Regions from separate parts of the Homo sapiens genome. Here regions 1 and 3 are each linked to region 2. The links come from fine-mapping of genetic effects on gene expression. A gene starts in region 2. Each other region holds a variant in brackets. All regions are shown on one strand. Distances are between the middles of the regions.

Region 1 (2,761 bases), 44 kb after region 2:
GGAGTAAATATAGTACAGTACTTCCCTTTAAATGTCCTTTACTCAAGGAGAAAAACGTATTTGGGGTACATATTTTCACAACCATCCTGGCATAAATTTTAAAATCTGTGTGCAAATGGGTGGTGATTGCATCATGTTAGGTTGCTCAGAGAATGTCTTTAAGATGACATGATTGAGAATTGATTCATTAACACTGTTACTATTTTTTCAGAGCTCATTCCGCAAAACCATGTCTGAGAGCCAGGAAGTCTGGATTCTTGTCCCAGTGCCCCAACCAATGAGCTGAGTGGCCTTGGCAAGTCACCCAGTCTGCACCAGTTTTCTTGTCTGTGGAATGCTGGGCTTGGATGAATAGTAATTCAAGGATCTCTCCCTCTGCAGTGTGCTTTCTGGTGACCATGAATGGATGCTGTCAGTAGATGCCTTGGTGCTCTTTACGGTGCTGGTGCAACTACCCCCAACTGTCAGGAAGATGTCCCCTAGTGGCTTATAGCTGTCTCCTCTGCAGAATTGCCCTTGGCCAAACAGCTGCTTCCTCACCTGGGAGATCACACCCCTGCAGCCGATGATTGACTGACACGTGGGTGCAGAAAGCCTGCCCTCTTGCCTCCAGGTGGGACCCAGTCTGTGGTGCAATTTGTGTTCCTGGGCACCTGTGGGACTGGCTGAAGTTAAACTTCAGATTAAACTACATCCTTAATTAGCTCTTTCCCTCACTCCAGCCTATTTCTCTCTCCTCGCGTTTCTTGAGAGCCCCCAAAACCCAATATATAAGAATTCTTTTCTTAGGCTTTGCTACTAGAGACCCTGATCCAAGAAAGTCACCTTAAAAGGAAGGGCTTATGGGTATGGGATTTCTTGAATTTTCCGGAGGGTGTAAGGTCATCATGAAAATAGGGGATGGTGAGGTGTAAAAACAGAGAGGAAGCCTTAAACCAGGGATGTCCAACCTTCTGGCTTCCCTGGGTCACGCTGGAAGAAGCATTATTATCTTGGGCTACACATAAAATACACTTAACACTAACGATATCTGATGAGCTAAAAGAAAAATGCAAAAAAATCTAATAATGCTTTAAGAAGGCTTAAAAATTTGTTTTGGGCTGTATTCAAAGTCATACTGGGCTGAATGTGGCCTGCAGCCATGGATTGGAGAAGCTTGCCTTAAACTGAAGCACTGGATATATTTGAATAAATATGCAGTCTTTAGTTTCTAGAAAATTTAGTTTGCATTTGATGTGATGCTGAAACCTCTAAGTAGAAACACCTGCTCATGTCCGGCCCAGAGTGAGTACTCACTGAATAATTATTGAACCAAATCATGCTGAATTTCTAAAATGGGGCCTAGAATTCCTGAAGATGTTTGATTGTAGGAGAGAAGAGTTTGGGGGCACAAAGGAGAGAAAGTATTAGGTTGGTGCAAAAGTAAATGCGGTTTTGGCCATTACTTTTAATGGCCAAAACCACAATTGTTTATATACTATAAAGAGAAGTCTGGGCTGAAGGCTCACTCTGTCCCAACTCCTCTAGGAAGTATGATGGAGATCGGGACCAGGGGTAGGCAATGATCTGAGGTCAATCTTAGCAGGTATGTCTAGACCGCAGGTGCCAGCATT[C/T]TGGTAGGTTTGGAAACCCCTCTTCTCTACTCCCAGCCACCTCCCACCATGCTGGTAAACTTGATGGAGGAGGCAGCTCCCTGCTCTCAGCAGCTCTCCTGGGTCCAGCTCCCTGCCTTTCTCAGTGTCTGGGGAATGAGAACAAGTGCTCTCATTGTCCCATAGGGACAAGGCCAGGGCTTCGCTAACCTGGTACCTGGTGTGCTGGGATTTATGGTTCAAAATGAAACACTCTGCATTCCCCTCACCCACACTGCTTCATCCATACCCAGCCTTCTCAGTGGTTCTCCTCCCACCTGACTTTTGGACTTGTAGTTATTTTGTGTCTCCTTATCCCCTCACTAATGAGTGGCCAGAGAAAGCTCAGAGGGGCTAGTTCTGGATTTTTCAGAACAAGGGATGGGAGTCATGGCAAGGAATTGAGATGCTGGGCCAAAGAACAGAAGTCTCCACCCCTATGCCAGCCCTGGGTGCTCTGTGGACTTGAGGTCAGCTGTGGCCTGCCCTGAGCTGGAGGCCTCTCCTGTTAGTTTTACATGAGGGGCCCCATGGGCAGAGAGGCTCATCACCCGAGTAAAGGTGACACAGGCTGCGGGAGGCAGGGCCTGCAGTGGAGAATGTGGCCTCCCAGGCCTGGTCACGCCTTCAGAAGTGTGAGGGTTTTCTAGGGTGAGAGTTGATGTTCCTAACTTTAGCCTTCAGCTCTCGGGGAGGCCCTTATGACCACACACATCTGTCAAAAATACCCTGTCCACCTCCCAAGCCTATCAGGGATCCCTGGCCTCATCCTCACAATGGGATGGGGAGGAGGCTTGATGGTAAGTTGGGAGATGGGAAAGGAGAGAGGAAGAAGATAAAGGAAATGAAGACGACAATCACTGAGTGGGTGATGGCTGCATGCCACCTGCATTCTCGTGACCCCTCTCCTCTGACCTGCTCAACAACCCCGGGAGTCAGAAATCACCTCCCAGACCTCAGTTTCTCCACACATTAAGATGTACTGAATAACCACCTGAGGGTCTCATAGGCCATTTCACTGATGTTCGCAACACCCCATGAGGCGTGCTGTTATCATCCCCATGAGGAGACAGAGCCTGGAAAGGTTGATTTGCAAAGAGGTGAAAGCCTGCCACAAATCTAGGTATGTC
Region 2 (2,761 bases):
TCAAAACAACCTTAGTCTGGGAGGGTAACAGCACAGAGATTTACCTGTCTTGCTGCTGTCCAAGACCATGCTTCTGTCCGTAAGTTCCCTAATAAATCACCTTTTGCTGACAAGCTGGATTTGTCTCCTTCATTCTTTAGTTTCTCAGCTCCTTCTGTATTTGGAGGTCACTTTGAATATACGGCCCTTTCATGAAACAACCAGGAATTCCTGTAAAAATGTTTTTTATATGTTCTGGTCTTCCCTAAAATATTTTATGAATTAGATCAAACACAATAAAAAATGTATTAGTTATTACTATGCCTAAGAGATTATAAGTGGCTTTCCCCCCTCTAAATTACAGAAGACACCATTCCTATCCTAGAGGACTTTCTCGTGTAGTTGGAAAGATATTCGATAATGTTTATTTAAAAGCTGTAACAATTACACAAGGCTGAGAACCTGAGAGCTAGATGGGTGATAAAGACAGGTTTACAGTGGGGCTCAGAGGAGAGAAAAAGAGGGAGGAGAGTCAGGGAAGGAGAACAATGAACTGAGTCTAAAATAAAGGTTAATATATTCGCGTAGGATCTATCAAAACAGGAGCAGTATTTCAACCCATTGTTTTCAAGCACCTAGAACAAAGTGAGCCCATAGTAGACACACACCAAACATAAATGGATGAGTAGTAGTGGGTGGCAGAATTCCAAAAGCAGGTTGCACCTGATTGCTAAAAGGCTTGAAAACAGGTCAAGAAATACTGCTATTTAGGTTAGTCATTTCACCTCAATAACTCGAAGTACCTAAACATAGACTTTTTTTTTTTTTTTTGAGACGGAGTTTCGTTCTTGTTGCCCAGGCTGGAGTGCAATGGTGCGATCTCGGCTCACCGCAACCTCCGCCTCCCGAGTTCAAGCGATTCTCCTACCTCAGGCTCCCGAGTAGCTGGAATTACAGGTATGCGCCACCGCGCCCGGCTAATTTTGTATTTTTAATAGAGACGGGGTTTCTTCAGCTCAGGCTGGTCTCCAACTCCCGACCTCAGAAAATCCGCCCGCCTTGGCCGCCCAAAGTGCTGGGATTACAGGCCTGAGCCACCGCGCCCGGCCAACACCGACTCTTTTCACCCTCCCAGGTATCTAGAGAGTCGAGTGGGAGGGAAATTGCTGGCTCTGGCCACTACAGTAACATCAGCACCTAGAGCAGTGCTCAACTGACTGAAGGCTCCTGTGAGTCGCCCTCTCCCCCTGGCCCCCCAACCCGCGGGGAAAGGCTGGCGGGACGCCACACAGCACCTCGATTACGCCATTTCATTTGCCACTGCACCATCTATCGGACACTAGCTAGGCTCTTCCAGGACCGGACGCACCTCCGTCCCCAAGGTGCCACCTGACAGCCAACACCGACGGGGTGATGCATGAATACAGTCATTATTCAAATTAGCTAAAACACCTAACTCATTCGGGTGAGTCTCGCCAGTCCCTCTGGGCTGACTGTCCCGCCCCGCGCTTACACCCGGGAGCGTCGGGCGGGAGAACTAGTGCATGCTGGCTGGGGATGGCGGACGCAAAGCCGGAGGCAAGGCCGCGCACGCGCAAACGCGGGCGCGCCGCCGGGCCGTGCTAGTGCGCGGAAGACGCATGCGCTGGCGGCCTGCGCCGCCTTAAGTGCCGCGCCAGCCCGGGGCGGCCCAGTCGGCCTGTCAGCCGGCTTCGAGATAAGTCCCGGCGCTTGCGCGGCGGCGGCTATGGCGGCGGAGGAGGAGGAGGTGGACTCTGCCGACACCGGAGAGAGGTAAGCGCAGCCGGCAGGGGGCTTCGTGTGTCTCCGGCGCGCACCCTCCGCGCGGGCCGGGTTAGGGCCCAGCGGGCAGCACCAAGGAGTCGCCGCCCGCCTGGCGACGACGGGCGGCTTCCTCGACCCTCCCCGGCATGAGTCCGCGCGGCGCCCAGAGGCGTCCCGGCGCCGCTCTGCCTGGGAGAGGCTCCCCTCAGCGTCGGGGCCCCGAGGTGTCTGAGCCGGACTCCGGCCGCGCCGGGAGGCCGCCTTGACCCCGCGCGGAGGGTCCGCCCCGTTGTTGTATAAGCCACCCCGCGGGCCGGCGACGGAGCTGGCCGCGGCGGCCGCACCGGCTCGGGCTCTGCCAAGGGACCCGGCCTGCCCCAATGCCGCCGGCGGGCGGTGCCCGGTCGACCCTGCACCTGACTGCGAGGCGCGGGAAATGACCGGGTCTGTCAGCCTCCCATCGCGGCTTCCGTCTACAGGTACTACCTGTGCTCTGTCCAGCCTCAGCCACTGGACGATCCTTCCCGTAGCCGTAGGAAGGGGCGGCGCTTCCTTGGAGGGGATATTAGAGGCCCGAATTCGCCCGGGAAGCGGCGGGAGGGCGGGGGTGCCGGGAAGGAGGGAGGGGAGAAGGAGTGAGGGAAGTGGGTGTATGGCTGTGAGTTTCAGATACTTCATAGAAAGAAAGTTAGCCCTTAAGATAGAGATACACGTTCAAATGTCATAATTCATCTTTCGGATGAAGGTCTTTGGCTTGCAAGCTCCACTGTCCCTTATTTGTTTGCGCTTCTGGGATTATTCTGGCTTTACTGGCGAAGTGTGTGTTGCATGTGCCTTAGAAGAACACACATAATGTATAGGAAACTGTGGAAGTTGGAGGGCAGATGTCTAATGTGAAACTTTTTTATATACAGGTATAGTGAGTTTATTCTTTTCTACACCTAAATGACTTCTTGCACTTGTTAGTAGAAGAATAGTAGTTAATGAGTGGAATAAT
Region 3 (2,761 bases), 240 kb before region 2:
AGTGCAAGGAGAACACACAATCGACCTCCTGTGGTCACCTGACACAGTCATGGCGAGGACGGCAGGGTGCAGGACACTCCAGGTGGCCTAAATATATGTCAGAGTTAGAATAAAAAGCAAGGCTCAACTATGTTAACTGCAAGAAATCCATCTTAAATAGAGGGATTCAGGTTAAAAGTTAAGAGATGCTGGGAGGCCAAGGCGGGCGGATCACTAGGTCAGGAGATCGAGACCATCCTGGCTAACACGGTGAAACCCCGTCTCTACTAAAAATACAAAAAATTAGCCAGGCCTGGTGACAGGTGCCTATAGTCCCAGCTACTCCGTGGGCTGAGGCAGGAAAATGGCATGAACCCGGGAGGAGGAGCTTGCAGTGAGCTGAGATTGCACCACTGCACTCCAGCCTGGGCTACAGAGTGAGACTTTGCCTCAAAAAAAAAAAAAAAAAAAAAAGTTAAGAGATGCACACAGATCTTGGTTTCTAATACCATTGTCCAAAACAAAGGAACCAGAGCTCCTTGGAAAAATGGCTGAGTCTAGGACCGCAGCAGGAAATATACAAGATGAGTCTTATCAGATAAAAACTAAGGAAATCTGAATAAAGCATGAACTTTAGTTAATAATATTAATAGTTGTTCACTAATTATAACAAGTGTACCATACCAGTGTTAGATGTTAAAAGTAGGGGAAACTAGCTATGGTGTATATGGGAACTATCAGTTCTAGCTTGTTAACTTTTCTGTAATCTAAAACTATCTTAAAATTAAAAACTTTATTTTAAAAAGACTTTTACTTTATCATATATATTTATCCCAAAATCACAGGTAAAACAATGAATAATTAAACTAGGATTCCAAACAAACCATCTAAAAACAACTCAGCAAAATCTGCTAAACCAGTTCTCAGGTTAAGGGTGAATATCCTGAAAATGACCTACATCTCCCAAATCTATGACCATGTTTCCTTACATTAGAAATATCATTGCCTACAACACAGGCAATGCATTTTTTTTTTGTATTTTTTGTTTTTGAGACGGGGTCTCACTCTGTCACCCAGGCTGTGTAGTGGCACTATCTCAGCTCACTACAACCTCTGCTTGCCGAGCTCAAGTGATCTTCCCACCTCAGCCTCCAGAGTAGCTGGGACTACAGGTGTGCACCACCA[T/C]ACCCAGCTAATATTTGTATTTTTTGTAGAGACGGGGTTTTGCCATGTTGCCCAGGCTGGTCTTGAACTCCTGAGCTCAAGCAATCTTCCCACAGCCTCCCAAAGAGCTGGGATTACAGAACACCAAACCCAGCCTTTGTTCTGTCAGGAGCTGTCCAAACACTGATGAGAGTAAAGACAAGAAGCCTGGCGGAGAGAGAAACGTATAGATATCACTGTGTGTAGAATTCTTAGAGTGGGTGATCACTTTGTGACCTCCACTGTCATCAGCTTCGGGGCCCAGGGTTCATGTCCCACATTTTATTGTGCCTTAGGGCCTAACAGAGCATGTGGATTCAGGAAGGAATGCTTCCCATCTTCTACTTCTCAGATTGCATTTAAATTTACTCCTTGTTGAACTTATCAGCAATAACTCAAGCTTCTCAGGTTTTGCTTTAATGTAACCTTTGATATCTTTGTCAGAGCAAGGGAAGTGGGAAAAATGTACAGAGGCAGTGGATATAGAAGAAAGGGGATGAAAGAAGTAAAGCCAACTGGCAAGTCTTTGCTCTGAGAGAGAGCAACTTCATACAATTGAACAGAGAGTTTGTAACAAAAAAGAGTTACAACTTTTTATAACTGCATATTTTTTTCAAAGATAACATTTTCTGTTCTCCGCTGATATATTTTCTTGAAGAAAATACTGGTTTATGGTTTATTACTTGTTATGTTCTTAAGATATGCTTGAGGCACACTACTGTCAGAAAAGTAAGGAGAAATTTGAACTACTTCTTTGAGAAAGTCAGGTTTTCACTAGGGAGACCCTCTCAGTTACAAAGTGACAATAACAATCAATTTTAACAACTCAGAACTTGCCATACCGAAAACACTCGAGGGAAGATGAATATTCATAGGTAGATAAAAATAATTTTTAAGGTTTAACAACAGCAAAAGCGATTTATCCTAGCTATTCTGAATTTATTATTAAAAAATGTATATACCTATATCTTTTTGAACTATAGTTTGAAGGTAATACAGTCACATGGTTAGGAAAAAAGGTATAAAGTGATACCCCTACCCCTGCCCTCATCTTCCCAATGCCCCACTGTGCCTCCTGCCCACATGTACAATCAGAATATATTAATATTTTCTCCATGTTTATATAAAAGGAGCATACAGAAATACTGTTCAGCATTTTCCTTTTTTGTATTTCCTAATATTAGAGATCTTTCCATATTAGTACCTAGACAGCACCCATACTTTATCGACCAGTGATGGACATTTACACTATTTCCAATATTTTTGTTATTAGTAAGGGTGCTGCAATAAATTTCCTCCAACATTTGTCATTTTGTGCACAGGCAAGTATATTTGTGGAATACATTCCCAAAGACAGAACTGCTCGGTCAAAGGATATACACAGTTGTAATATAAGTAGATTCTGTCAAATTGTTCCGTACATGGTATTAAGCACGCATGTACAATCAACAGCTGAATATGAGACTCCCTGGTCCTCCACAGCCTTGTCGACCCAAGGTGATATCCCTCTGGTGGATTTCTGCCAATCTGATAAGGTGACAATAGGTGTTTCAGTTTAGTTTCCACTTGCCTATCTTAC

What was found.
Region 1: its variant is fine-mapped to the expression of ABHD5 in whole blood (INTERVAL, PIP above 0.99).
Region 3: its variant is fine-mapped to the expression of ABHD5 in whole blood (TOPMed, PIP 0.90).

The regions. Positions count from the first base shown.
Region 1 is chr3:43,733,669-43,736,429 of GRCh38, forward strand. It overlaps a transcript of ABHD5 not described here. Among named protein-coding and RNA genes, the nearest start is that of ABHD5, 44 kb to the left of the region's middle. The variant C/T (reference allele first, on the strand shown) is at 1,614.
Region 2 is chr3:43,689,267-43,692,027 of GRCh38, forward strand. It overlaps ABHD5 (abhydrolase domain containing 5, lysophosphatidic acid acyltransferase), which reads left to right and starts at 1,672. Exons shown (of 7, transcript NM_016006.6): 1 at 1,672-1,773. The coding sequence starts at 1,727. It also overlaps a transcript of ANO10 not described here. RefSeq lists a silencer at 1,844-2,323.
Region 3 is chr3:43,444,692-43,447,452 of GRCh38, forward strand. All of the region lies in intron 11 of ANO10 (anoctamin 10), which reads right to left. Among named protein-coding and RNA genes, the nearest start is that of SNRK-AS1, 94 kb to the left of the region's middle. The variant T/C (reference allele first, on the strand shown) is at 1,165.